Linked DNA regions of Homo sapiens. The protein of the gene in region 1 interacts with the protein of each later gene in a biochemical or structural test. Each region holds a gene or a part of one and is shown in the gene's direction. Other genes may lie near its edges.

Region 1 (7,448 bases):
TTCATAGCAAAATTGAGTGAAAACCCCTTGTATCTCTGCCCCTGCACAGACACACAACCACCCCTGCTATTATTGTCCCACACTACAGTGGTATAGTTGTTACATTCCAATCGATAAACCTACATTAACACATCATTATCATGCAAAGTCCCTAGTTTTCATATGGGTTCACTCTTGATGTTGTACATTTTATGGATTTTTACACATATATAGTGACATATCCGCCATTCATACCATACAGAAAAGTTCACTCCCTTACAGATCCTCCGTGCTGTGCCTCTTCATCCCTTCCACCCCACTAACCCCTGGCAACCACTGATATTTTTACTGTTTCTGTAGTTTTGCCTCCAGAATGTCATATAGATGGAGTCATACAGTATGTAGCCTTTTCATATTGGGTTCTCCCACTTACTAATATGCATTTAAGTTTCATCCATATCTTTTCATGGCTTGATAGCTCATTTCTTTTTAGCACCGAATAATATTTCGTTGTCTGGAGGTACCACAGTTTATATATCCATTCACCTACTGAAGTAACATCTTGATCACCTTCAAGATTTGGCAGTTATGAATCAAGCTGCTATTCACATCTGCATGCAGAATTTTGTGTGGACATAAGTTTTCAGTTCATTTGAGTAAATACCCAGGAGTGTGATTACTGGATCTTATGGTAAGATATGTTTATGTTTGTAACAAGATTGCCAAACTGTCTTCCAAAGTGGACATCCAGATGCATAAAAATGAATCTAGATATTTTGCATTTCCTGTACCATTTTGTATTCTCCACTAGCAATGGATGAGAGTTCCTGTTACTCCACATTTTCTTCAGCATTTGTTGTTGGTGTTTTGGATTTGGGCCATTCTAATAGGTGTGTAGTGGCATGCTTTTCTTGTTTTAACTTGAAATTCCCTAATGACATGAGTTTGAACAGTTTTTCATACGCTTACTTGCCATCTGTTTATCTTTGGTGTGAGGTATCTGTTCAGGTATTTCACCCATTTTATAATCAGGTTGTTCATTTTCTTTAGTTTTAATGGTTCATCGTATATTTTTGATAACAGTTCTTTATCAGGTACATCTTTTGCAAATATTTTCTCCAAGACTGTTGCCTGCCTTGTTCTCTTGACATTGTCTTGCAGAGCAAAAAAAATCTAGGCTGCAGTTACAGATTTGGAAGTTAAGAGCATATTGGTGGTATTGGGAGCCGTAAAACTGCATAAGATAACCAAAACAGTATATGTAGGTAGAAAAGAGAAGAGTGTAAGGTCTTAGCTCTGGAGGACTGGTGATATTTAAAGCTTAGGGTGATAAGGAATAGGAATAGAGAGTGAGAACGAGGGGCCAGGAAATGTAGGAAAGCTAACAAAGTATGTTATTCTAGGAATGAAAGAGAAAGTGTATCAAGGAGGATGTGATTGGCTGTGTCAAATGTTGCTGGACCAGTCAAATAATATGAAGATTGAGAAATGATCATTGGGTGTAGTGATGAGGTCATTGGTGACTTTGGATAAGAGCTGTTTCAGTGGAGTAATGGGAGGAAATGCCTGTTGGGAATGAGTTCAAGTAACAACAGAGGAGAGAAACTGAAGATAGCAGATGTAGATAAGATTTCCAAGGAGTTTTGCTGTCAAGGAAAGATGATTGAGATGGAAACTCGAAGGGAGAGAGAAATAGAGATTTTAAAAAATAATAATAAAGTTGGGAGAAAGGGCATTGTTGGATTCTTATTGGCATCACTCACCAGAGAAGGAAAAATGGATGATGATTCAAGACAGTGGAAGAGACAGAGAGTGTCGGTCAGTTGCTAGCCTCTAATATGATTTGTTTAAATTACAGTGGACTCAGCCCTGCAACTGCTCATGTCCCTTCCTGACCCCTTCCCATCTTGCCGTATGTTTTGACTAACAGATGGTACATTTATGAGAATGAAAAGAGGCCCCTAATCCAGACAGGTAGCCAACACTACCTGGATTTTAGGACTGGATTTTAGCCTTCACTTGTCCTAAACTAGGTGTCTTTGGGTACAGCAAAGTAATCATACTACCATAGCTTCTCTGCTTAGTCTACTCCAAGACAATAGGAAAAGTTATTTACTATCCTGCAATAGTTAAATGTACACTTTGTCCTATAGTTAAATGTACACTTTGTCCGATGGCAAATAGCATGATAAGTGGGAAGAGAGCACATTTAAGAACTAAGAATTTGGTGTGGGAATCCAAGCTCTTCTATCAACTGGCAGTAAAATATATTTGAGGAGAGTTTAAGGCGTATGAGTCGTCTTACCAACAAGTAATTATGAGTTTAGATTTTATTTGAACTATCTCTCTTGTTTGTATTTTATAAAGTAATGGTGTGTTAAGCGCAGTGCACCAAAATGTAACTAAGACTTAGTAGCACCTAGGACTCAGATCTTGGTTTTTCTTACAACATTCGCACTGAAAGGAACCCTGGCTCTTTGGAAAAATGTTTGATTCCAAGGATGGGATTCCTTATGCCAAAGGAAGGAAATGCTTAAAAAAAAAAAAAAAAAAGATGCTAACATGTTGCAAGGATATAGGAGTCATTTTGAAAGGGTTCCCCATCAGCCAAATCTGCAATAATTTGGGTATCAAAATAATTAAAGTCAGTAATGACTTATAAAGCATTGGGAAAAAATGAGACCATACCAGTAATACTTCTGTACATACGTACAGGCAGGAGAAGAGGCTCAAGGGGTAACTGTTAAGTGTAGAGAAAGTTCTAGAATTGGAAAATCATGATTTTATTGCTGTAACAGAATACCTGAGACTGAGTAGGTTATAAGGAAAAGAGGTTTATTTGGTTCACCTGATGGGCATCTGCATCTGTTGAGGGCCTCAGGCTGCTTCAACTCACAGTGGAAAGGCAGGCATCAAGTGCAAAGAGATCACAAAGCAAGAGGAAGCAAGAGAGAGAAACCAAGGAAAGCCACTCTTTTTAACAATGAGTTCTCTTGGGAACTAATTCATTCTTGCTAGAGTGAGGACTCACCCCTGAGGGAGGGCATTAATTTATTCATGAGGGATCTACCCCTCTGACCCAGACACTTCCCAACATTGCCGCGTTTGGGGGTCAGATTTCAACTTGAGTTTTAGCAGGGACAGATCAAACCATAGCAATCACAAATGGATGCTAAATCTTGGGAAGAAATTTTGATAAGAAGCAGGATATTTGCCTGGTCTTGAAGTGTCTGTCCAAATATTGCTTATTGGTTGCAGGGAAAAGATAGTAACTAAGCAGTAGGAAAATTGGATAGCAGTTTGTCTGGATGATGAAACTTAACATCACCAATGAGGTACAGGTAGGTGCTGTGTGCCTCCAAATGTGATACCATGAGAAGGACACATACTATTTCAGCCAGACACCTACTATTTCAGCCAGAAATGCGTTACATGAATCAAATCATGAGGAAACATGGCAAGCTCAAAATGATGAGCATTTTTTAAAAAAGAAGACTAGATTCTGCAAAAAACGTTAATGTTATAAAAGTTAAAGAAAGGCGGAAAGGACCCATATTAAAGGAGAATAAAGACACAGGAAATAACGTGGTTCCAAGACTGGGTCCTGCATCGGAGAAAAATTAATTTTTTAAAAGGGTATTACCGAATCAGTTGACAACATTATAATACAAATTGTACTTTAAAGAATTGTATTAATGTATTTACTGAAATTGTAACTGTATTGTAATTTATAGGAGATTGTTTTTAGGAAATGCACACTGACATGTTTATGGGGAAAAGGCCGTGTGCAACTTTCAGGTGACTCAGAAAAAAGTATGTCTCTATGCATGCTTGCAGGTTTAGAGGGGTGTGTGTTTCGGGAGAGAGAGGAGCAAATGGGGCAGAGCAGAATGCTAATGGAGACTGGGTAAAGTTATACCAATTTTCTTTGTACTTTTCTTGCATTTCCTCTGTAAGTTTGTAATATTTCCAAGTAAGTTCATACACACATGCACATGCAAACACATTGGGGCTTATTTCTTTTATACTTATTTTACTTCTTATTGCTCTAGATTGCTAATTTACCTTTAACACTTCCCTGGTTTTAGGATATTAACATTCATTGCTAATATATGTACATACTGATTTTTAATTTCTTTTAAATAGTGCTGGGCCTAAAGGAGATAACATTTATGAATGGAGATCAACTATACTTGGTCCACCGGGTTCTGTATATGAAGGTGGTGTGTTTTTTCTGGATATCACATTTTCATCAGATTATCCATTTAAGCCACCAAAGGTAAGAAGCTTGAAGTGCATTCTTTAGTATTTAATCCTTCTCCTCTAAAATCGGTTATTCTAGAACTTAAATGTGTATTGATGCAGTTATTTTGATTTCATTGCTTTTCATGGATTGATATGGAAATTTTCGCATAATCAAGAATTTTAAAACAGTAATTGACTCCTTTCACAAATAATTTGTAATAAACAGAAAGAGTTTAATTCTTAATTGTAAATAAAACTATACCTTGCACATCAATAAAGCAGATAAATTTTATGCTTATGAGGGAGAAGATCCTATGAACCTTCATTAATACCTTAATTAATAATACCTTAATTAACTATTAAGGTATTAATGAAGGTATTAGGATAAAAAGTAAAACTGTTTGACAGCTTCCAGAAATAAGGGTTTAATAATGTGAATTTTGTGCTGAATACCTTTATAGATAAGCAAAAACTTCATAGCCAAGAAGAGGGAAACTAATAATATTTAGTAAACTCATTTTGTACCTTCTGTGGGTATGATGTAGTAGTGGAAGCAGAATGCCTGAGTTTTGTTGGCTCTGAGTTCATTTGAAGTATGAATTAGATGGATAACAGAGAACGGGGTGAGTTGTGCCTTCTAATGACCATCAACTTTGCAAAGCTTAAATATAACAATTACTTGAATGGCTCCCTCCGCTAACTTCTGTTTCTACAATGGTCAAGTCAGCAGGTAAAAACCACTGGAATTAAGCATGAGCATTATTATGCTGTTGTTACAGAGATGTCTGACATAGCAGGGGAAAGTGTATTTTCAAGTCCATAGCCCTTAACTATGGTGAAATGTTTTTCTTTTCCAACATGGTGACTTTTGTTCTCTGTACTTTTAAAAATTTATGTTGCAGTCTATACCATTTAAAATTTATGTAGCCTGTGTGTATATGTATATGTGCACATAAACGGATTTATTTTGTGAATAAAAGAGGGTTATTTCTCAGTAACTTATTGTCTAACAAGGTAACGAGTGCCATCTAGTGGTATTTACCCCAAACCGCAGACACCATTTACTCTCAATTACAGCTGTTAGTGTTTAAAGTGCTTTACCGTGTGGTCCCATCAGCATGTAAGATCTTGAAATTATTTTTGCATATGGGGAAGATTAATTGAAGAAAAAGACTCTTAAGTTTTCCTGGACACCTTTTAATGAAAAACAGAAATTGGCTAATATAAGAATTTCACACTATATAGTACTGTATATGATTTGCCGTAATTTTGATGAATATAATGATTATAAATTTAGCATGTTGGTTTTTTGCTGAAATTGCAATATATCATCTAATTCTTTAGTGTTCACTCTGTTGCTGAGATATACAGTATTAACCATTAAGATCTATAGTTGGACAAATGAAAAATAAGATTTCTGGTATAATCTTGGTATTTGGAACAATTATTTCTCTGCAATGCTAAATCTTTTTGAAGTTTGGAAAAGTTGAGCTTCTTGAAGGATAATAAATATTTAATAGAAATCTGCTCATGAATGCTATTCTGTTCACTAGTTATAGCTGAAAATATATTTGTAAATCACATATGTATTGAGCAGTAACGTCAGTGATCTGAACATAAATTATTTCTATATTCTAGAGCAGCATTAATGGAAATATAGTAAAATCTACATGTATAATTTTAAATTTTCTAATAGCCACATAAAACATAAAACAATTTTAATACTATATTAGTTAACCCAACATATTAAAAATATTGTCATTTCAACATGTAATCCGTGTAAGAGTATTGTTAATGAAATCTTACACATTTTCTTTTTGGTACTAACTCTTTGAAATCTGGTATTTATTTTACACTTCTAGTTCGTCTCAATTCACCTTGCCACAATTTAAGAGCTGTATATGCACATGTAACTAGTATATGCTGTATTGGTCAGAGCAGTTCTAGAGGGGCATACTCTCCTCCTCCCCCACTAAACTAGTGTGTTGGTCCCCTACCCCCTCCCTGTCATGCATTCTTTTCAGGAAGACACTTTTGAGAGCATTTAATGTTTTCCTCCCAGATTCAACTTTTGCGCTCACAGTACACTGCTAGTTTTCAAATGATCAGAAATTTTTTTTTTTCTCGGCAACTCCAATTATGAATTAGCTATCCAATTAGTGTTTGTGATTGTTTTGAGACTTGGCAGTGTTTGTTCTTATGATTTATCTTCTTTTCTCACACATTTCAGGGATATATTAGTTTCCTTTATCCAGTAGCTAAAAACCTTGTTTATTTTATTTTAATATTTTAGCCTAACAAGACAGTGAACCAGCTGTAGAAATAAAAGGCTAAGAAACAGAAAGGCAGGTAGTGTGAATGATTTTACCAACCGTCTTCTAAATCCTCCAGTATTTTCTAACGTTTGGTAAGAAATTAGCTGAATTGATACTGATCTTTTCTAGTAAGAAACTGATGTAACTTTTATGTTTTAAAAAAAAATCTTCATCAGTTCCTCTTACCTTCGGCACCAAAACATTTCTTTTCTTCCTCACTTTCTGTCTTTCTGTATGTATGTGTACACACACAGTTGTATATGCTGTGGATGTGTATGCAAACAGACGTACCCACACACATAGATGGAATTACTGTATCAGTTATTTAAGTATAACTGATCAGTTCCTCACTTTAGTTCTTTCTATACAGGGTAAAAACAAAAAATTTTTTTCAACTGAGTCAAAAGCATTTAATTTTGTTATTAAACCTAATCTAAGTTTAGCTCCAGTCAAATAATTTAGTATCATCTATGATATATTACCCTTCATTTTTTTTTAGTGTTTTAATTGGTAATACAGCATTCATTTTCCTTCTGTTTTTAATGTGACTGTGCTTAGGTTACTTTCCGCACCAGAATCTATCACTGCAACATCAACAGTCAGGGAGTCATCTGTCTGGACATCCTTAAAGACAACTGGAGTCCCGCTTTGACTATTTCAAAGGTTTTGCTGTCTATTTGTTCCCTTTTGACAGACTGCAACCCTGGTAAGCAAATCTTTATTAACATGTACAATAAGACTACAAAAACGAGTGCTTTTTTTTTTTTTTTTTTTTTTTTTTTAGTTAGCTTTAAATGTAGATTGAGAGGTAAATGTTATTCATAGAAAGATCCCCATAAAACAGTTTGTGAGGAAATTACCAATGCCATTTGAAGTAGACTAGGCCAAAAGTTTCTCAATACCTTCATT
Region 2 (7,854 bases), about 38 Mb from region 1:
GCTTCCCCAGCCATCCTTCCTGTACAGGCTATGGAGCTGTGAGCCAATTAAACCTCTTTTCTTTATAAAATACCCAGTCTCAGGTGGTTCTGTATAGCAATGCGAGAACAGAATAACACAGCCATTAATTCAGTAACTGCAAAGTCCCGCCTCAGCTCTGGAAAAGGATTTGGAAAAAGGAACAGAGATAGAGGGAGACAGATTTCTAATGTAAAAGTCATCTCCCTTTCAATATTCATTACCTTAAAGCAGGGACTGATGGTTGAGGGCCAGCGCACAGGGTCCTTGAGAATGAGGCTGACCAGCTGAAAGATGCTTGTAGCATAGAAGGGAGGGGTGCCTACTGCCAGTTCATATAGTATGCAGCCAACAGACCAGAGGTCCGCTGTGTGGTCGTATGGTCGCTCCTCCACCAGCTCTGGAGACATATAGAGTGGTGTGCCTTTGATGGATGTCAGCACCATTGTATTGGTGCTCATAGCCCGGGCAAATCTGCAGAAGATAATGGGATGGAAATGGAAAGGGAAAAGATATTCTAAACCTGGTCACTACTACCTAACATAGAGATATCCCAAACCGGAGCAGAGGGAGCACCTTTGATTAGGTTCCAGAAGACCCAGCAGCAGTCCCAGCCTCTAGCTCCGGTTCTAAAATGAGGCCCAAATAAGTCAAGAGTATGGTCTAAGATTCCCTGTGGGGCCAGGCTCAGTGGCTCATGCCTGTAATCCCAGCACTTTGGGAGGCCGAGGTGGGCAGATCACCTGAGGTCAGGAGTTCGAGACCAGCCTGACCAACATGGAGAAACCCCATCTCTACTAAAAATATAAAATTAGCCAGGCATGGTGGCACATGCCTGTAATCCCAGCTACTCTGGAGGCTGAGGCAGTAGAATTGCTTGAATCCGGGAGGCAGAGGTTGTGGTGAGTGGAGATCGCACCATTGCACTTCAGCCTGGGTAACAAGAGTGAAACTCCATCTCAAAAAAAAAAAAAAAAAAAAAGATTCCGTGTGGAACTGGAAGCTTAGATGGATGCTCAGAATCTTTACCCAAAGTCACAGAGCTTGATGCCACCACCCTTGGCGAGGAGGATGTTCTGAGGCTTCATATCTCGGTGTAGGATGCGGTGGGAATGCAGATAGTACAGGGCTGACACCAACTGGGCAGCAATGGCCTGAACCTAGAAATTAAAGAGGTGGAAGAAAGAAAAAAAAGGTTAGAAACAGCAGCTGGCTGACAAGCCCAAAAATTTCTCTTAATATTACTGCTAATCTTTTCTTCCTTCCCTTTCTTGCAGAGCTTCACACTATTCTTTCTTAGTTATTGTTCCCCTTGTTTAATCACTCTTTCATTTGCTCATTCATTCATTCAAGAAAAATTTATTGAATCTCATTTACTATCTGCTTGACCATGGGCAAACTAAGGTGACAATCTATATAATAACACCATCTACATGGAGGATTATTGTGAGGACTGAGTTAAAGCATGCAAAATAATACTCAGAATGGTGCCTGGCACATAGTAAATATTCAATACACATTACCTGTTATTAAATAAGACAAAATGCCTTTTTTCAAGAAAAGTAGTCAGACAAACAAACAAGACAGATAAAACAAATATGGTGGTCGGGCGTGGTGGCTCACACCTGTAATACCAGCACTTTGGGAGGCTGAGGCGGGCAGATCACCTGAGGCCAGCAGTTCGAGACCAGCCTGGCCAGCATGGTGAAACCCCATCTCTACTAAAAGTACAAAATTAGCTAGGCATGGTGGCGCATGCTATAATCCTGGTTACTGGGGAGGCTGAGGCACGAGAATTGCTTGAACCTGGAAGGCGGAGTTTGCTGTGAGCCAAGATTGTGCCACTGCACTCCAGCCTGGGCAACAAAGCGAGACTCTGTCTCAAAAAATAAAATTCAATTAAAAATAAAATAATTTCAAAAATATGATTACTTACAAATAGTGGTGAGTGCTCAGAAGGAAAGAGAATGCTGCAATAATGAATCCCAGGGGGGGCCTACTTGCTTGGGTACAGACAAACGCCTAGAATAAATGTGGCTGGAGGATATGTGCAACAAAATCCCACTGCTAACCACTACGTCCTGGTGCCAAATCCTGACTCCCCACAACCTTTATTCTTACTGCCCTCTTTCTGGTACCATTACACTGGCCCTTCTTCCCTAAAGGTATCTAATAACAATAATGTTAATAATAGCTAACTATTCAAACACATTACATGACTTAACACTCTTCATCATAGACTTATCAGGCAAACATGATTATTATCTCCATTTTACAAATTAGGAAACTAAGCACAAAGAAATTAAAGTAACTTGTCCAATGAGACCCAGCTAGGAAGGAGCAGAGCCAAGCTTCCTGCTCAGATATTTTGACTCCAACGTTTACATAATTTACTCCCACACTACACTGCCTCTATATACCTAGACTCTTATATTCTTCTCAGAAGTCTTTGAAATGGAGACTCTCAGTGTCCTTAGCTTGCTCTACCAGTTCTCTAACCTGGAGAGAGGTCGGAGGTGGGGAGAAGTTGAAGGCAGAAAGCATACCTGGTCTTCAGGAAGTTTTCCGTCATCTTCTAGGATCTGAAAGAGCTCTCCCTCAGCATAGTCTGTCACCACCACCACCTACAGAGAGAAGGCAGTGGCACTGATGGCTCCAGATTCATGCATTCTGAGGTTGGGAAATTCCTGGAACCCTTGTGCTTGGGGAGACAGGGCCCAAAACTGTCAAAGCACACCTCTTTATCAGTTTCAAAGCTGTCAAGCATATGCACAATGTTGGGATGCCGCAGACCCCGCATTATTTCAATCTCTCGTTGCAAATTCCTCAGCTCCTTCTCTGAGCGCCCCAATTTTGGGATGAACTTCAGGGCCACGACCTGTCAGTGGTAAGGTGAAAAGTTAACGCCTAATCACACTACTGAAAAGATCTAGAATTTCAGCCTTAATCTCAGAGCTCCAGAAGTCAGATTTTAGAGTGTTTGAGTAACTCTTATTATTTCTGTTAGTCTCCCGCTTCCATTTTCTCCATGGTACCCTGGCCTTATCCAGGCTTTCCCCATTCCTCATCCCAGGAGGAAACAGCATCTGCAAAACATTTCCCCTTCTGGAAGAAGTGTTCTGATTTGACCAGCACTCAAGATGAGATTTAGGAGAAAGGAAAGGAAAAAAAAAATGAAGAGGAAATAATAGAGTTCAAGTGGTTTACCTCTTATTACATGGTGTGCTAGAGACTAATAATATTTGTTGTTTACTAACAGCCAGGCACTGTACTAAGTGATTTAATGTGAAAACATATTTAATCCTCAAACTCCATCAATCAGTTGCTGTTCTTATCCCCATTCTAGAGATAAGGAAATTGAGACATAGGGAAGTTAAGTAATTTGTCCATAATTCTAGGGCTAGAAAGCGGTGGAGATGGAATTTGCACCCAAATAATCCAACTTCAAAGCTTATACTCCATAAGAAGTATGAGGGAGTCAGTACCTTAGGAATACAAACTGGTATAAATACATTCCTTCTAGATCCATTTTCCACTGGAGTTGGGGGTACCAAATCCCACCCAAAAGGTATCCCTCTTTGTGCAACACCTGAGCACTGTATTTTCTTCGACCCTTGTACACCCTCCCAAAAGAGCCTTCTCCAATCATCTCCAACACGTGGTACTTTTCCATGACAGAGGTTTCAGGATCTCTTAGAAGGAAGAAAGTAGAGACGGTGAAGAGCTATAGATCCAGGGACAGTTCCACAACATCTGGGACGCCTAGTTGGGGCACGGGAAAGGAAAAATGTTAGCCACCTTGCCTTTTCCTCTTTTTCACAATAAAGCCTCAAAAAACATGGGAGGGTGGAATGCATGCAAAGATGATGCGCTCTTGGAACAAACAGAGCTTCTCTTTGTAGTTCCTCCCCACTTTCATCCTCCTGTCCCCAACCCGGCCCCATGCCCAACTAACACCTGGTTCCCCTTCTCCCTCACCCAGCCTGGCTCACTCGACCCTACTCTTTCAACCTAGCCTCGCCCAACCAACCCTGCTCCTTTGAGTCTCCCCCAAGTTCCTGCCACTCCCAGACTCCTCAGCACCCGCTCTCAGACCCCCTGGCCCGTGCGCTTCGCAGGCCAGAGCCCCTCTCTCACCCCCAGCCTAGGAGCTCCAAGCTCCTCAGGCCAAGGGACGGATTCCCTGGCGTTTAGCCCCATCTCTTCTGGCTGCCTGCATACGTTGCCTGACTTATAATTCTTCTCCACCCGCCTCTCCCTCCGGTCTCTTTCGGCTCCCTTTCTTACAATTTTACTCGCTAGAACTGGTGAGAAGTTCAGAGGACAAAGGCGCTCAGAGGTGTGGAATGGACGGCGGACCACACATGGGCACTTCCTGGGACACATCCGAACTGCCTCAGGGCCATCAGGCCCGGCTAAGGACCCGGAGTCTGCGGTTGCCTAGAAACGACGCTAGCTGCCCACCCCTCTTAGTTTTCCGCCTCCGACTTCCCTAAGGGCATTTCCGGTTCCGGCTGCGGGCCGGTGAAGATATGGCGGCGTCTGCGTCTGCAGCTGCAGGGGAGGAGGACTGGTAACTTTGGGGGCATGGGCTTTGGCTGACAGCCTGGATCTAGTCCAGAGGCCTAGCAGCTGTCGCAGACGGTCCGTACGGCGGGCGTGTGGGGTGGAGCGAGGGATGAGGGATGGCAGAGATGCTGACATCTCTGGGAAAGCTGGACTGGGGAACGGGAGGGTGGAGGGGCGCTGATCTGAGTGAGAGGAGAACGGGTCGGCGCCCGCCAGGCCAGTTCAGGCCTCGCCGCATCCGGTTCGATCCCTTTTCCTCCAGCTTCACGCCATCCCTTTCTCTCCTCCTCAAATGAATTTTCTCAGGGGCTTTGGGGGATGCCTGCCCATCAGACCTCCCCATCTCCCTTTCTCCTCTCAGAACCAGTGCCCTCCAGTTCCGGCCCCCTTTCCCCTTGGATCAGCCTTTTTCCGCCGACGCTTTCCTCAGCCTTCTCTCTCTCACACAGCACTAGTGAGGACTATTGTATGAATAAAGCTTTACACTTCATATAAAGTCCCTCTAGTCCTTCTCTCAAGCATTCTTAACCAAAGACTAGAACATGGAAGGACTCTGGGATTTGGAAGTAGGATCAATGTGGGTTAACTCCACATTTTATTAGCTGTGTGATGCTGAACAGGCCATCTAGCTTCTGTGAGTCAGTGTCCTCAGCTGTAAAAAAAAAAAGTGGGTGTGGCATTTACCTCAGAATAGTTGAGAGGATCACGACGGATTTGTAATATACTTAAGTCTGTTTTTTGTTTTGTTTTGTTTTGTTTTTTGAGACAGAGTCTCACTCTCGCCCACGCTGGAGTGCGGTGGTGCGATTACGGCTCACTGCAGCCTCGACCTCCCCAGGCTCAGGTGATCCTTCTGCCTCAGCCTTCCGAGTAGCTGAGACTACAGGTGTGTGCCACCATGCCTGGCTAATTTTTGTATTTTTTGTAGAGACGGAGTTTTGCCATGTTGGCCAGACTGGTCTTGAACCCCTGGGTTCAAGTGATCCTCCCACCTCAGCCTCCCAAGGTGCTGGAATTACAGGCGTGAGCCACCACACCCGGCCTCCTTTTCATTAATAACTGAGGTGCAGGCACCTGGGAAGACTAGATGAGTCCCAAAGAAGTAAAGTGATTTGCCAAAAGATAGAAAATTATGAATAGAAATCCATATCTGTCTGACTCCACACCTTAGATTCTTTGTACTAGGACATTCTTCAGTCCCCACTCCCCCAATTTTTTTTTTTTTTTTTTTTTTTTTTGAGACGGAGTCTTGCTCTGTCGCCCAGGCTGGAGTGCAGTGGCGCAATCTCGGTTCACTGCAAGCTCCGCCTCCCGGGTTCATGCCATTCTCCTGCCTCAGCCTCCCGAGTAGCTGGGACTACAGGCGCCCGCCACCACACCCAGCTAATTTTTTGTGATTTTTAGTAGAGACGGGGTTTCACCCTGTTAGCCAGGATGGTCTCTATCTCCTGACTTCATGATCCACCCGCCTCAGCCTCCCAAAGTGCTGGGATTACAGGCCTGAGCCACCGCGCCCGGCCCCCCTCCCCCATTTTGTTGTCACCACCTTACCACCATCCCATCCAGGACCCATATAACTAGGGTGGGCGAAGTATTGAAGGGCCACTTGACTGAGGCTACACCTCAATGTTACATTGGTTCAGGGAGCCCAGCTAGTACTGGCCGTTATTAAGAGTATCTAGACTACTGGTTTTCAAAGTGTTCAGGGAAACTTCTTTTTTTTTTTTTTTTTTAAGAGACAGAGTCTTACTTTGTCACCCAGGCTGGAGTACAGTGGCAAGATCATGGCTCACTACAGCCTCGACCTCCTGGGCTCCCGTGATTCTTCTGCCTCAGTCTCCCAAGTAGCTGGGACCACCGTGTCCAGTTAATTTTTTATTTTTTGTAGAGATAGTGTCTCGCTTTGTTGCCCAGGCTGGTCTCGAACTCCTGGCCTCAAGTGATCCTCCCACCTCAGCCTCCCAAAGCGCTGGGATAACTTACAGTTTACCTGTTCAGGGGAACTTTTAAGATTCAGGGGAGACACCTTGAGCCATGGAGACAGCAACAATGAGTGCAGCAGCCTGTAGTACTGTGAGACTCCCACTCCCATGTCAGCCAGAACTACACTGTTATCTGTGAGGTGTGAAGCTTTATATTTTATATTTTGAAGTTTCTGCCTAAGACTTAACAACACTGACATAGGTCGTGCTGGGGCAGCCTTACTCTTAGAATGAAGAGGGAGCAGTGTGAGAAAGCAAAGTGTGCATTTTTCCATGTATCACTTGGTAGAGCTGTAGACACAAACTGATCACTCAGCTTCAATTTCATTACAACTGCTGTTTCTATGCTTAAGTATGTGTGTCCCTTGATTTACATCAGAACCATGGATCCTAACCTCAACAGGCTGATCTAGATCAACCAGACAGCCAGGTCATAAATACATCCAGAGTACTCTATTACCTCCTTCCTTCCCTCTTTCCTTCTAAGGGAGAAGGTTATATACAGACAGGAAAAAAAGAGGACGTAGACTAGCTACGATAGCCCAGATACTATTAGGTACTTTATGTAAACAAATCACCTTTTATCCTCACAATAACCCTAGAGAGTAGGTGTTATTATCTATATGTGACAGACAGGATAACTTAAGCTTACAGAGAGGTCACGTCCCAGATTGCATAGCTTGTAAGTGATTGGTACCTGTTAACTAACTCCGAGGCTGCTGGCTCTTCCATTACAACACAGCCTTTATACCACCCTAAATATGTTGTGTTGAGGTTGCTATCTCCTTTAAGAAGGCTTAGGGTGACTGGTGTTAAAACTGTATGTAGACAGTAGCCAAGGCACTGGGATCCACACTGGACAGTGACGTAGGGAAAGGTTGGAGTAATATTGGTAACGTTAATGCTAATGAATGAGTGCCATATCTCTAGACCAGAGATTCAGCCACTAAGGGGAATGAAACTTAAACAGGGAGTCAGGAAACCTGGCTCTGGGCCTAGTTCTACCTATGTTAAGCCTTGGTTAGTCATTTTACTTCTCTAGAATCCACTTCTTCATCTGTTGGCAGAAATGATGCCTAAAATTCTGATTTCCATGCCTTCTATTTGGCCAGTTGACAACTTAAGGTAACATATTCCTTGTTTTTAAGGAGTTTAGCAGGAGAATGCATTCTGGTAGATTGCCATTTTTCTACAAAGCCTGCCTTTATTGGCCTTAGCAGGCTTCCACAGGGAGAGCTGTAATGGTAAGTTAGTCTACTCCTGTCTCTCTAGGGTCCTTCCCTCT
Region 3 (7,448 bases), on another chromosome or scaffold:
GCAGTTTCATGCTGTCACGTTGCCCTTCAGAGAATCAGGGAATGCCTTCGTAGAATATTAACGACAAATTGTTGAATTTGCACAGCTTGTTTTGTCTCCCTGAATTAGTATGTGTAAGAAAAACCAATGGAAGATTTTAGCAGGCTCTGAAAGTAGAATGCCCGCTGAAGCAAACGGCAGGGTTGTTCTTCCAAGGCGTATTAAATATGGGTACACTTAGTTTGCAGACTTGGTGTGCTGCAGAATATCACATATGAAGATATTTTGACCGCTATTTAGAAGAGTGACCTCATAAATCTTTTAGCAAAGTAGACACACATACCTACCACATTTCTTAAAAGTAGATTCGTATTTTGATTTGAGATTGTTGAAAAGCATGGTATGTTTGGAGTGCACTTAGTTATGTCCCATCTCATAAAGACTGTTGAGCTCTCTGCACTGCTGATGATGAAGCATTGCATGAACCCAGAAAACGGGGATGCCAAAGCACAGGGCTTAGGTGCTGTTCCTTGCGTCATCAGCAGAGGTCTGTCCACTTTGTAGAAGGTAAGGGGTTGAGATGTGGGCTTTGCTTGTGTGAATGTATGTGCTGTTTAATTTTTTCTGTGTGTTTCGGGCGGAGGTTTCTCTGGTGAGTTATAATTCATATTTACCCTGATTTAAGTCATGTCACTTTAGGTAGCCAGATTCAAAACCATCAGATGAAGGACTTTTGGTGTTAGAGGGATTAGCAGTTTAACAAAACTTCTGATTCATGGCCCAAGATCAGATTTGGTTTGGAATCAGAACACTTTGGACTAGTTTCTGCATCTGGCTTGAGTCCTTGTGGATTTCTTGTTTTATTTCTTTATTTTTGGCAATCTGTAGTGCATTTTGGCATAGTTTACTTATGAATGTTACCGCTAACTTTCTGAAATCTTTTATTCCATTTTAGAAAGGTATCATTTATTGAAAAGATTTTTCTACTGAACAAAATACTGGGATTGAATGGCAGCTTCTTATCACATTAGATATGACATTAAGTAATTTCGTTAGTAGTTAAAATGAAGCAAATGGCATAGAAATGAAGGCCAGGCTGACATAGGATAAATGGCACCTTCTCTCCTTATCCTGTACAAACACGGATAGTTGGCTACTTTTGAATGCCTCTTCTATACCAATGGTAAAAATCCGGCTTAATTGGGGCCACATTCTAGCCTAGTCACAATCAGTGGCTTGCATTATGTCCTTTGAGATGTGGCAGATCTGCTTATAGGTGCCAGTCACCACGGCTCCCTGCTGGCTTGGGGGTCTTTCTACTCATTTACATATAATTATCTACTTCTTAATCAACCATTAAGGTTAACTTTTGGCATGGATCCTGTATGCTTTTCAGTTTAAGATGCTGTCACTTTTAAGATGCGCCATGAGAGCAAAGTGCTAAGCCTTGTGCACATACTATGTCATTTAGTTCTCATGAGAACTGTGTGAGGTAGGCTGTGATTTACAGATGAGGAATGAAAGCTCAAAGAGGTTACGTGACCTGCATAAGGACACAAAACAAGTTAAGTTATGGAGCCAGCTATTTTGAATAGAAAGGCCTAGTTTTTAACATGCTGAATATCCTCCCCTTCTGACAAATGCCTTGAAAGGTCTTACTATCTAGATTATTTAAGATAATGTAAGAGAAATAAACACCACTGGTTGCAAACTGATGGCTGCTGGGCCCGATTTGACCAGGAACCCTGCTTAATGTGGTCTCTAGAGTGTTTTAAAGCTTGGAAATTTCATGAAAATGGTAAAAATCTGGCTTAATTGGGGCCACATTCTAACCTAGTTACAGTCAGTGGCTGGCATTATGTCCTTTGAGATGTGGCAGCTAGTTGTGCTATGGTTGCAGTCACCACTACTTTCTGTTGTCTTAGGGGTCTTTCTACTTGTTTACATATAATTATCCACTTCATAACAAACCTTTAAGGCTAACCTTTGGCGTGGATGCCATATTTCTTTCACTTTAGTGTGCTGTCACTTTTAAGATATGCCATTATTTCATGTACCACGAAGAAAAAATTGCTGTCAAGTTATGACATACTGTCCATCTTATGAAGCATCCTTATTTCAGAGAAGTTGAAATATGAGAAAAAGGATATTTTAGAATTGATGAATTACAGTGACTAGAAACCTGGGAAAACTCCATGCCATCAGTTTCAATATCCCCAATCATTCAGTACTTTTAAGTCAACGAGTAGTCAGATTTCTGCTTTTCTGTGTTTGAGGAAAGTGCTAGAAAAAGAGAAGTGCTCTTAAATAGGCATTAGCACAGAAGGAACTGGGGGCCTAGATCATAGCCAACTGGATGGCCGTCTGTAAGTGATTAAGAATAGTTGTTAGTTTTTAAAAAGTGGCCTGTGTGTATTTTCAAGAGATTACTTGGGAAACCCTATGTGCCATCTTTGCAGCTGTGCAAAACGGTGAGGACAAGATTGCTTTCAAAAATTGTGGTTTAGATTTTGCTTGGATCTCAAGGTGAATGCTGACAGGCCGTTTTCTGAAGAGAGAGAAGGCTTGCCCAGTCATGCCAAGTCCAAGTGCCTGTGTCGGGCCTAGATGCTGGATGGTAGACTGTATACCCAGGACATATAGGTAATGTTTGAGAAACAAATGTTAAAAGGACCTAGTTTTCATGGTGACATTTAAAATCAGTTTTTAAAATTCATGAATATAACATGTTGTTTTAAAATTTGATTATAGGGACCGGGTGCAGTGATCACTCCTGTAATCCTAGCATTTTGGGAGGCCGAGGCAGGAGAATCACTTGAGTTCAGGAGTTTGAGGCCAGGCTGGGCAACGTGGTGAAACCCCGTCTCTACAAAAAATAGAAAAGTTAGCCAAACATGGCGGCACGTGCCTGTAGTCCCAGCTACTTGGGAGGCTGAGGTGGAAGGATCACTTAAACCTGGAGGCAGAGGTTGCAGTGAGCCAAGATCATGCCACTGCACTCTAGCCTGGGCGACAGAGTGAGACCCTGTCTCCAAAAAAAAAAAAAAAAAAAAAAAGACTAATGAATAGAATTTATTTTCTTCAATGATGTAGTGTCTGTGGAATTTGTAGACATTGACATTTGAATTTTCATTATATTTAGTTTTATTAAATCAGAATGTTATGATTGTTTATTTCATTATTGAACATCAGTTTCCTTAATTTAAGGAATAAAAATAATTTTGCTCAGGCCAGACATAGTGGCTCACATCTGTAATCCCAGCACGTTGGAGGCCAAGGCTGGTGGATCACTTGAGGTCAGGAGTTTGAGACCAGCCCAGCCAACATGGTGAAACCCTGTCTCTACAAAATAAATAAATAAATAAATGAAAAAAAAATCAGCTGGGTGTGGTGGTGGACACCTGTAATCCCAGCTACTCTGGAGGCTGAGGCAGGAGAATAGCTTGAACCCTGAAGGCAGAGATTGCAGTGAGCCGAGATCGCACCACTGCACTCCAGACTGGGTGACAGAGTGAGACTCTGTCACAATAATAACAGGCTGGGGCAGTGGCTCATGCCCGTAATCCCAGCACTTTGGGAGGCCGAGGCTGGAGGATCACCTGAGGTCAGGAGTTTGAGACCAGCCTGGCCAACATGGTGAAACTCCGTCTTTACTAAAAATACAAAAATTAGCTGGGCTTGGTGGCAGGCAACTGTAATCCCAGTTACTCGGGAGGCTGAGGCAGGAGAATTGCTTGAACCTGGGAGGCAGAGGTTGCAGTGAGACAAGTTCGGGCCATTGTGCTCCAGCCTGGGCAACAAGAGCAAAACTAAAAATAAAAAATAAAAAAAGAATAGTAATAGTTTTGCTTAAAGGGTGAGGACAGTGACAAATGGTGATCCTCAGATGACTGTAGTTTCTTTACCATTACAGAATGCAATTCAAATGAAAACCATTGCATGGTACTCAGGCATTTCTTCAATGCAGTGTGTGCCCACATCACCAGGAAGCTTACTTGGGAAAGTTTGTTTTGGGATTCTGGAGTACCTCAATATATCTGGTATATTTTCCCAAGAAAAGTGAATAATCTTGGGGGGCCGAGGTGGACAGATTGCTTGAGCCCAGGAGTTTGACACCAGCCTGGGCAATGTGGTGAAACCCCACCTCTACAAAAAATACAAAAACTTAGTTGCGTGTTGTGGCACGCACCTGTGGTCCTGGCTGCTGGGGAGGCTGAGGTGGGAGGATGGCTTGAGCCTGGGAGGTTGAGGCTGCAGTGAGCCATGATCATGCCACTGCACTCCAGCCTGGGTGACAGAGCAAGACACTGTCTCAGAAAACAAAGGCAAACAAACAAAGATCACCCCAAAGAAGAACTCCCAACATATTAAAAGTCATTGAGTTTTGTACCCTTCAAATGGATGAATTGTGTTGTGTATGAATTACATCTGAATAAAACTGTTTAAAAATATTAAGAATGATTGAGTGTGACATTATTGCAGCAGTACATTGGAGTTTCTGCTAAATTACTTTTGCATTCATTTCAAAAGGAAGCAACTATGCCCATTGCTAATTTAATAACCTGTTTGCTTGTGCGGTGTTTAAAATGGCATCATGAAAACATGGCAATGTGTGATAGATTAAGAGCCAATTAAATTTTTTATTTTGAGTTACAAGATCTGCATTAAACAGATTTTATTGTTGCCCTTGAATTTCCAGTCTTAGATGAGTAGCAGCAGTGAAAAAAAGAGATCCTAACTTAAGAGTTTTCAAGCTTTTTGATGTTGCAGGTATTTGAATAAGTGGGTCTGTCTTACTGAAATATTTGTTAATTAGCGATAAAGCAAACTATATGTTGATCTTTTGGTAGTCCATGCTAAGGAGGATTAGAATAATATATAAATAATATAATGGTAATAAGTATCAGGGCAGGAGGATTAAAGAAGGGTGGAAGAAGTGTGACAAAATGTTACTTTCTGTTTTTACATTGTTTCTCTTCCAGGTCACAACTGTATTTCAAATGTATTTCATTTTCAGACTATAGGTGGCAATGTTTGTGCTGTTCACTGTTTAATGTTACTGTTGGCTCGGGTGTTGCTTGTTGCTGGAATATGGAAATGATAGCATAATTTAGAGTTGAGAATAAAAAAAACTAGATTTAGAAAACTAGAAACTAGATTTAGATTTAGTAGAGACTTTCTAAATAGTCCTAGTTCTGCTGTGTGGACCCTTCTGTAACTTTCTGTTACTCTGAGAAGGAGCTGATAATTATCACAACTACTGGTGTTTGATTAGCAGAGACATTCTTGATTCCTGATGCAAGACCGTGGCTGAAGTTGTAGCAGGGCGTTTGGTGGTTGGCGATGTAAAGATCTGGGCCTCTTGTTTCATGAATAATAGAATCTCACTATGATTGTAATATTTTGTTTTGAACTGGAGTGCTGATTATTGTAATCCCTTTAGGTGAGAAAAGCCTTATTATATAAGTGTATCTGGGGTAACTAGCTTAAATTTGACACTCCAGTCAACTTTTTGTCCCTGACTTCAGTCCTGCATTGATTCAAAACGCACCAAGTTAAATGTCAAGGCTCTCAGATTCCCTTGCTGTCATCAAATTCAGTGTTTGGTGACTTCTTGGCAGGCAGACATCTACCAAGAGATTTTGTATTCTTTTTATACCTCCTATTCACCAAAAGAAAAGGGCCATTCAAAAGTGAGTTTTTCTTTTTTTTTTTTTTTAAGTTTAAAAAGCTATGATGTGGCCACCCATGGTGGCTCATGCCTATAATCCTAGCACTTTGGGAGGCCAGGGCAGGCAGATCACTTCAGGCCAGGAGTTCAAGACCAGCCTGACCAACATGGCAAAACCCCGTTTCTACTAAAAATACAAAAATTAGCTGGGCGTCGTGGCGTGCCCCTGTAATCCCAGCTACTTGGGAGGCTGAAGCAGGAGAATCGCTTGAACCTGGGAGATGGAGGTTGTGGTGAGCTGAGATTGCAACTCTGCACTCCACCCTGGGTGACAGAGTGAGACTTTGTCTCAAAAAAAAGCTGTGATGTGAAACCTGTTCTGTGAAGGTGGAACTTGGAAAGGCTTGTAAGGATGGTGGTCCCATGAAGAGGATGAACAAACCAAGGGAACTGTCCTCTTGCTGGTTTGGGTGATGTCCCATCACCTGTCACTTTGTTTGTTTGGGCTGCAGTGGACCAATGGTTTCCCAGGCACACTGAAGTGACATGTAGATGGATTGCTTGAGTGGCTCCGGCATGTTTCCATCTCCTGTCTACCAGGCAGAGACCGTGTTCCCTGTTTTGAGGGGATCCAGAAGTGCAGTGACAAGGGCCTGATTTGCATCTCCAGCTCCTGGTCTTGCCTGTGTTAACAATTTTTTTTTTTTCTTTCCAGATGGAGTCTCACTCTGTCGCCCAGGCTGGAGTGCAGTGGTGCAATCTCGGCTCACTGCAAGCTCTGCCTCCCGGGTTCACGCCATTCGCCTGCCTCAGCCTCCCAAGTAGCTGGGACTACAGGTGCCCACCACCACGCCCGGCTAATTTTTTTGTATTTTTAGTAGAGACGGGGTTTCACCATGTTAGGCAGGATGGTCTCGAACTCCTGACCTTGTGATCCACCTGCCTCGGCCTCCCAAAGTGCTGGGATTACAGGCATGAGCCACCGTGCCCGGCCAACAATTTTTACATTCTAATTAATTTCCAGTTTCCAACCTGACTCAAGGTTTAGCTCTTCGTCTCTTGGGTGCAGTTTTGGATCATGTCTTATAATGTATATTTAAAAGTGTGTTGTAAAGCTGGAATTCCCATTGTGGGTAAATGCTGAGATTGTTGTAATACTGAGAAGTGCACTTGGGAACCATGGCCAACACTGCCCTAGCTGACCGGAGGTTGCACTGAGTTGTCCCCTTTGAACATCTGTTATGAATGAATGTTGGAAAATGCAAAGCCAATCATTTCTTTTACCTGACCTATGTGATGTTAAGTTTTAGTTTTATGTTTTGGCAAGTGAGTGTTGGATGTCACTAATGTGAGGAGGCCGGTGAGGGCAGACTTTGGGTCAGAGGTAATGTAGGAGATGAAGACCCTTTCTATTAATTTTTCTTGTTTAATTGAAGATGTTCGTGTTGAATGGGTTTTATTTACATGTATAAGTTCTTTTTTTCTTAATGCTGGAAGTTACTTTGGTTTTTCAGAAAATGCAAGTAACCCTAATCTATTTAGAGAATTACTTTGCTTAGTAAGCACTCAGTACTATTTAGTAATGGGGAAAAAATGTGTTTGTGTCCCACAGCGTGACAGGCTCCACAAACTTACTTACGAATCTCCTAACTACCCTGAGAACCTGAAGAATGGGACTTTGTGGAGAATCTTCTGCTTTCTTTGCTAGTCTCTATTTTTCCTTCTCAGTTATTAAGTGAGTTGTCTTTGGGTGTCCTCATCATGCTGACTTCATCTTGCCCAGTTTGTTTTGGGTAGA
Region 4 (7,369 bases), on another chromosome or scaffold:
TATGCCAAAAGGAAAACTATGACTGTATGATTATTTTAGCGAGAGTCATATTTGAGATGGTGTTCTGAGCCATAGTTCTCTAACATCTCCGTCTACATATAACACAAAACTTTTATAAATTATTTTAACAAAGATTAAAATATACTGCAGGGCAAATAATATTCTCTAAAACACAGGAACTGCTTTTCGTAAAGAAGACTGACTAGATGCATCTTTCTTTGAAGCTGTTCTAGTCCTCCTCTAGTTAACTTAGCTTTATGTAGAATTTCTACTGTATTTAATTTCTATTGAAGCCCTTCTGTATTTTAAAATGTAATATACTTTGTACCATTTATAAAAATTGTGTGATGAATGAATCACATGTTCGTTGTTATAAGTGTTAACCTTTTTTTGACAATTTTGTGGGAAAGACATTCTCCACTGAATTTTAACTTTCCTTGAGACTTTCAAGAATGCAGGTCTCGTTTGATGAAAAAACCGACTTCATAACCCAATGTTACTAGTTAGCGACATTGTGCTGAATTTCTCCTTGAACTTTTTAACTTTATATGTAAAATAACTTTGATCTTGGTCATTTGAAAGATCATTTCCAGGTCTAAAATTCCATGATTTTGTATTTAATTCTTCCTGAGAACAGAAGAGGGGAAAGCAAGAGAGGACGGTTTTGTGTCTTTATGAACTTTGTTACTTAAGTACTCCATTGGAGACATAATTTTTCTAATTAGTGGATCTTTTTCCACTGGAAAGTGTGATAGCTCATTGCTAATTTTTCATTCATAGTTCATTGCTTCCATTTGACCTAAGATTGGCCATTTGTTGGTGTGAAAATATTTTCTTTTCAGAAATAGTTTACTAGTGATTGAAGTACTTTTCTTATTTTTGCTTCCTATTATAAAATGGCGTGGGGGGAAGGGGGAAGGATGGAGATGGGAGGAGAGGGTAAAAGAATAGTACTCTGATTTTTTAAGAATTAGTATCTACTATCTTGGATATTTGAAAAAAAATTGGTTGAAACTATGTTTAAGTTTTATGTGTGCCTTGTAAGATTGTTGTAAAATTTTTTGTGAGCACTTTGAGATTTTTGCTGGGGGAGGGGTGTTTTGTGAAAGTGATGGTTATTATTTATATTATTTATTCCTGTTCAGTAGCACGGAATGATCTCCAAACATTCCTAGGAGAGTGTCTGTTTGCATGATATGTCTAAAAATTTTCAGGAAAATGGAATCTTTTTTTAAAGTTCAGGTATGACAAAGTATAGAATTTATTCATTTAACATATTCACATTTAGTTTATGTTTCTGATATGACAGAAAAATGAAAAGTGTTTGAGTTCAGCCTCTTCATTTACTCCATTTACATATAAAAGATCTTGAAAAGGTAGTTGTTACTTCGTTGTCAGAGAAAAACACTTGCCCTTTTTCCTGGGATGTAACTATCTTACATGTTTACATAAGAAATAATAAACTGGAGGTGGGAATGGAGAACAATGTGTTTTGTCTTCATCTTTGAATTTTAAAGGATACAATTTAAAGGATACAATTTCTCCTGACTATACATTAATCATTCATCTAGCAAATACTTCCTGAGTCCTTACAATGAAATATAAGTTAGGTATACAGACAAAAATTCCTGCTCTTGTGAAACATCTTAGTGAAGGGAGACAAACAGTAAACAAGTAAGTAAAATCCATGTATGTCAAATTTTGAGAAGGAATTTGGAGAAAAATCAGGAATAGGGAGTACCAGAGAAGGGGGATGGAATTGCAATTTTAAATATGGTGGTCAGCGCCGGGCGCCGAGGCTCAGGCCTGTAATCCTAACACTTAGGGAGGCCGAGGCTGGCAGATCACTTGAGGTCAGGAGTTTGAGACAAGCCTGGCCAACCTGATGAAAACCCTTCACTAAAAATACAAAAATTAGCCGGGCATGGTAGCGCTTGCCTGTAATCCCAGCTACTCGGGAGTCTGAGACAGGAGAATCCGTTGAACCTGGGAGGCAGAGGTTGCAGTAAGCCAATATCGCACCGCTGCAGTCAGCCTAACTGAGGGAGCAAGACCCCATCTCAAAAATAAATATGGTGACCAGGACACCTTTGAAAAATCTCGGATTATCAGAAATATATATTCTTCTGTCTAGTGAAATGTAAATATATCCAGTAGAATAGAAAAATTTGGCCTGGACTGGTGGCTCACGCCTGCAATCCCAGCACTTTTGGAGGCCGAGGCAGGCGGGTCTTCTGAGGTCAGGAGTTCAAGACCAGCCTGGCCAACATGGTGAAAACCCGTCTCTACAAAAATACAAAAAAGAAATTTAGCCGGGCATGATGACGGGTGCCTGTAATTCCAGCTACTGGGGAGGCTAAGGCAGGAGAATTCCTTGAACCCAGGAGGTGGAGGTTGCAGTGAGCTGAGATCACACCATTGCACTCCAGCCTGTGTGACAGAGTGAGACTCCGTCTCAAAAAAAAAAATATGTACATATATGTATATATAATGTGTATGTTTATATGTGTATATATACTTATATGTATCTATATATGTGTATATATATTTATATGTATGTATATATGTATATATGTGCATATATGTATATATGTGTGTATATATATATATACACAGTAGGGTGGAAAACAAATATGTACATGTAAATTACCTATCACTGTCCAGTTGAAATTACTGAAACAATTATTGGTTGTTAACAGTTCTCTAGGCCTGGCATATGTTTCATAAAGAGAAGAGAACGAAAAAGATAATGTGTGGAAGAAACGTCTTCGATGTGGCCAATGAATCTTTTTTCAAAAACACTGATTTTTGCCTGTCATTCAGACAAATATAATAGGTAATAACTATATATTTTGTTAAAACTGTAGAAGCAACCTTTCCATATTCTAATTTATCGTAGGTTTACTTCGATATTTTTGTTGTTGGGCATCTGATTTCACATTGGAAAGTGCCTTGAGTTTAATTACAAGTCATGGTCATTTTTTTTCTTCTTTTTTTTGTTGAGACGGAGTCTGGCACTGCCCCCCCGCCTGGCTGTAGTGCAATGGCGCGGTCTCGGCTCACTGCAACCTCCGTCTCCCGGGTTCAAGTGATTCTCCTGCCTCAGCCCCCCGAGTAGCTGGGATTACAGGTGCCCGCCACCACACCCGGCTAATTTTTGTATTTTTAGTAGAGCCAGGGTTTCACTATGTTGGCCAGACTGGTCTCTAACTTCTGACCTGGCGGTCCACCCGCTTCGGCCTCCCAAAGTGCTGGTATTACAGGCATCAGCCACCGCGCCCGGCGTCATGGTCATTTTCTAGCCTACATTCTTTAGTTTCTCATCAGTAACAAGGGGTACATTGTATCTGTCTTCTAGGATCACTTTGCTAATTAAATGAAATGTAAATAAAACTAAAATATTTAAAATTAAATATCACCTAACACAGGACCTGCCTGACACATACTAAGTAGTTTATAAATGTTAATTCTGATATCCCTATTCCAAGTCTGTTTCATCTATAAATTATAAACTGTAAGAATAATTCTTACCTTAGTTCGCTGTGTAAAAAGCTTCAACAAATATTTGAGATATGATGCCAGAATTTGTGCTTAAATTTTTTATTTTTGCCAGCTTTTGAGGAGCTCAGAGCTTTCTTCCCCCCCTCCCCCCCCCACTTTGGACTCTTTGTCTAGAAACAGAGTTTTCTCTTTAATAAAGAAGTGAGATGTGGAAGTGCCTGCCAAATACATGTTTTCTTCTTGTTTTTGTAATGGGGAGATTACTTGACATCTTTGTAAAGGGATTGAGGGATCCTGTCGGCATGTCATCACAGGAGTGTGAAGAAGAATGTGACACAGATGTATCAGATTCTGCTCAATGGATTCCACGCTTTTCACGAAGGGAGTTAAGACACTCGCTCAAACCAGCGTCTAGGAAGCCGGCTCAAGGCGCAGATGAATGTGCAGGGAATTTCCCATCAATCCCTTCGGCTTGCCTAGTCCTTCTCACAGTACCTCCCACAGTGCTCCGGGGCTCCCTTGTCACGTGATCGGGGTGGATCCGCTGAGGCAGAGGGAAGTTGATTCGCAGTTTGGGTGGCTGGGGCTACTACGCTTTCCTTCCAACTCCCGACTCCCGGGCTTGCGTAATCTCGCGTTAAGTGGGGAGTAACTTCTCGCGAGAGCTAGATCGGGATCCCTCCAGGTCCGCCTCCGTGGTGAGGAGGAGGAGGAGGAGGAGGCGGAGGTGGAGGGAGGAGGAGGAGGCCCCGTCGCGGCCTTCGCCGCCGCCAACGGGGCTGTCCCTGTAGCTCCCGATGGAGTTTGAGGTCGTGAAACCTCCGCCGAGCTCTGCCCCGGCGAGACGAGGCGCCTCCGTCGCCAAGCCGCGCCGTCGCGGGGCTCCCGGGAGCGGCCCTTAGCGACCCCGCCCGGGCCCCCTCAGGTAGGGCGGGGGCGGGCACGATGCGGCTCGGGCCCCAGCCCGGGTGCCTGGTCCCCGGCGGTCGGGCGGGAGACCAGTCTCAGCCCTGGGGCCTGTGCGCTGTCGCCCCTGGTGCCTCGAGGGTTGGGAACTGAGGGCCGCACCTGACACTCGGATGGAACCCGGGCCCTGCGGAGGCCCCTCTCTCTGGTAGGGCTTTTTCGATGCGGAGCGACCGGCTCAAATGGCCACCTTCCTTCGACACTGGCCGAGCGGACGCCTCTGACCCCTAACGAACCCACCCAAGCAAAGGCCCGGCTTCACTCTCCCTTTTCTACACCAGTTAGTAAGGGGGTTTGGAAGAGGTCCTCGAAACCAAGTCTTCTCCTAGCTTTTCAGCTTTCTGCCCTGGGGCTTCCCGAGACCCTAGCGTAGAGGGTGGTGGAGGCGATCTGAGTGGTAAATAGGAACCCCGGCCAAACAATGCCCTGGGAGGGCTTAACCTCCCAGGATGGGGACGGCCGGACCTGAGTGGTTGCACAGGGGTTGTGGCTAGGAGCAATGGCATGAAACACAGCCAGGAAATTCTGCTATGGCTTTCTTCTTTCCCTCTCTCATTTTTCCTTTTTGGTGTAGCCTCTTGAGGAGACTCTTCCACCATCTTAGAAGAATGGTAGAAAGCATCTTTGTTTCCCAGAGAAGCAGCTGTACTTTTTTCTATCCTTAGCTTTCAGGATGGGAGAAGATGAGGGTAGCTGTCATTTCCATCCTTCAAATCCCAAGGCAGCCGTTTAAGATACCGGCAGATAAATCCTTCACACCAAAATTGACTCAAGTAATCACTGGCATAAAGTAAATCTAATCCAGTGATTTATTTATATTTTCATAACCCTTGGGTTCCCTTTTTAATTCCTCCTCTCCCCTTACCCACGGCCTTCCTTTTTTTCATTTCTACTCTCCCCCTACCCATTGTGGGTGGGTGAGTTTGTATCCCAAATAAAGTGCTTTAAGTAATCTTTTTTCCAATTTTGTATTGGCCAAACTTTTAAGTTCCAGTAGGAACTTTTGGTTAACCTGAGAAAGCTAACGTTGCTATACCACAGTGGTATAAAGTCACTCAAAAGCAAAGAAACAAATGTTAGCCAGTGCAGCCTTTTAATGGTTAAACATACAAACTTAGTTAAAAGCTTTTTACGATATTAAGAATATTAATAGATTCTCCTTTTTAAAAAACCTTTTAGCTGTCTAAAAAGCTATACCACTGTTGTAGCTTCACATGCCTTTCTTACGTTGTTTACTTCCACGTTCAATTTTTGAAGAAATAGAGGTCGTTACATCCTGTTAAAGACTGCTTTTCAATATTGACATTTTCGTTGATTTGGAGATTAATGTTTTCAAAATTTTAGAGTTTGGAAAATTGCTAGGAGGACAGAATGTGAAACATATTCTAGTTACGTTTAGAAAAAGCAGATGTTATAATTCAAACAGGCACTTGTTCTATGAGGATTTAATTACACTCGTGTTCATTAGTGGATCCTTTGAGTTACCCCTGATCTGTTATTTCTGTTGTGGTAACCTGACATGTAAGAAGACTTACGTCCTTTGTTCATATATTTTTGTTAAATCATACTCTGCTTTTGTAATTTGCTGTCTTCCACTTTGAAAAAACCAAAAATTTGCATTTTGGCAAAGCATTCTTCTTTACACTCAGGATTTTATATTCAAAAGTTGAACTTCTACATTGTTTGCAATAGCTAAGAACGCTAAAAAAAACTTCATAACAAGGTTTTAGTAACTACTTACTGTTTAGTTTGTACCGTGTTGAAGTTTCACTTTTTAGTGATGGAAAAAGGAAGCATGGGTAAAATAAAGCTAGCTGAAAATTAAAAATAAGTTCATGTTTTGCATCCAGTCTCATGAATGTTATGATCAGCGTCTCTAATTTTACTAAAGCTTTAAGTGTAAGTGTGAGTTTTACCTCAATTTCCTGATAAAAGTTCTAAGTATTACTTTATAATTTAAATATTCTAGAGTTGCACTGTCCAGTACTAGCCAGTGGCCACATGTGACAGTTGAAGATTTGAAATGTGGCTTCTGTGAATTGAGATGTGCTTTAGGTGTAAAATACCAGATTTCAAAGACTTAGTACCAAGATTTTTTTTAATATCTCAGTAATTTTAATATTGACAACATGTTGAAATGATATTTTGTATAAACTGGGATAAATAAAATATATTACTAAAAATAATTTTAGCTATTTTAACTTTTTTTTTTTTTTTTTTGAGACAGTCTCTCTCTATCACCCATGCTGGAGTGCAGTGGCACCATTCGGGTTCACTGCAACCTCTGCTTCCAGGTTCAAGCAATTCTCATGCCTCAGACTCCTGAGTAGTTGGGATTACAGGAAGGCACCACTACACCAGGCTAATTTTTGTATTTTTAGTAGAGATGGGGTTTTGCCATGTTGACCAGGCTGGTCTGGAACTCATGACCTCAAGTGATCCACCCACCTCCCGCCTCCGCCTCCCAAAGTGCTGGGATTACAGGCGTGAGCCACCACGCCTAGCCTCTTTTAACCTTTTTTAATGTGACTACCAGAAAATTAAAAATTACTCGGATTATAATGGCTCACATATTTCTATCGGATATTACTGTTGTAGATCAGCATTACTCTTCCAAGAAATATGTTAGTGGAATAAAAGTAGATGTATAAAAACCCAAAACTTCCAGATAGATTATCCTGTTACAATCAGAATAATTAAAGAGCTAAGGACTTTGGTAATATGAAGGATGAAGTTATCCATTGGCTATGATTTGATAGGCAGAAGTAAGTTCTATCTCAAAGAAAGTATTTTTCTCGTCATCACTAATATTAGTTATACTTGTTAAAATAGAAAGTTGGCTGGGCGCGGTGGCTCACGCCTGTAATCCCAGCACTTTGGAAGGCTGAGGCGGGTGGATCAC

Evidence for each region.
Region 2: the proteins of UBE2E3 (region 1) and RNF25 form a complex in vitro, tested with the Homo sapiens proteins (2 studies listed by BioGRID, with this or other methods).
Region 3: the proteins of UBE2E3 (region 1) and NEDD4L form a complex in vitro, tested with the Homo sapiens proteins (3 studies listed by BioGRID).
Region 4: the proteins of UBE2E3 (region 1) and RC3H2 form a complex in vitro, tested with the Homo sapiens proteins (one study listed by BioGRID).

The regions. Positions count from the first base shown.
Region 1 is NC_000002.12:181,053,568-181,061,015, forward strand, and holds part of UBE2E3 (ubiquitin-conjugating enzyme E2 E3), read left to right. Parts: intron 1-4,125; coding exon 4,126-4,258; intron 4,259-7,097; coding exon 7,098-7,245; intron 7,246-7,448. UniProt on the Homo sapiens protein: Accepts ubiquitin from the E1 complex and catalyzes its covalent attachment to other proteins. In vitro catalyzes 'Lys-11'- and 'Lys-48'-, as well as 'Lys-63'-linked polyubiquitination.
Region 2 is NC_000002.12:218,668,667-218,676,520, reverse strand, and holds the start of RNF25 (E3 ubiquitin-protein ligase RNF25), read left to right. Parts: upstream 1-4,518; 5' UTR 4,519-4,550; coding exon 4,551-4,591; exon of another isoform or gene 4,592-4,662; intron 4,663-7,841; coding exon 7,842-7,854. Other genes in the region: STK36 (serine/threonine-protein kinase 36), read right to left, coding at 243-492, 1,048-1,178, 2,565-2,642, 2,756-2,896, 3,608-3,691. UniProt on the Homo sapiens protein: E3 ubiquitin-protein ligase that plays a key role in the RNF14-RNF25 translation quality control pathway, a pathway that takes place when a ribosome has stalled during translation, and which promotes ubiquitination and degradation of translation factors on stalled ribosomes.
Region 3 is NC_000018.10:58,046,965-58,054,412, forward strand, and holds part of NEDD4L (E3 ubiquitin-protein ligase NEDD4-like), read left to right. Parts: intron 1-261; exon of another isoform or gene 262-546; intron 547-7,448. UniProt on the Homo sapiens protein: E3 ubiquitin-protein ligase that mediates the polyubiquitination of lysine and cysteine residues on target proteins and is thereby implicated in the regulation of various signaling pathways including autophagy, innate immunity or DNA repair.
Region 4 is NC_000009.12:122,902,167-122,909,535, reverse strand, and holds the start of RC3H2 (roquin-2), read left to right. Parts: upstream 1-4,176; 5' UTR 4,177-4,426; intron 4,427-7,369. UniProt on the Homo sapiens protein: Post-transcriptional repressor of mRNAs containing a conserved stem loop motif, called constitutive decay element (CDE), which is often located in the 3'-UTR, as in HMGXB3, ICOS, IER3, NFKBID, NFKBIZ, PPP1R10, TNF and in many more mRNAs.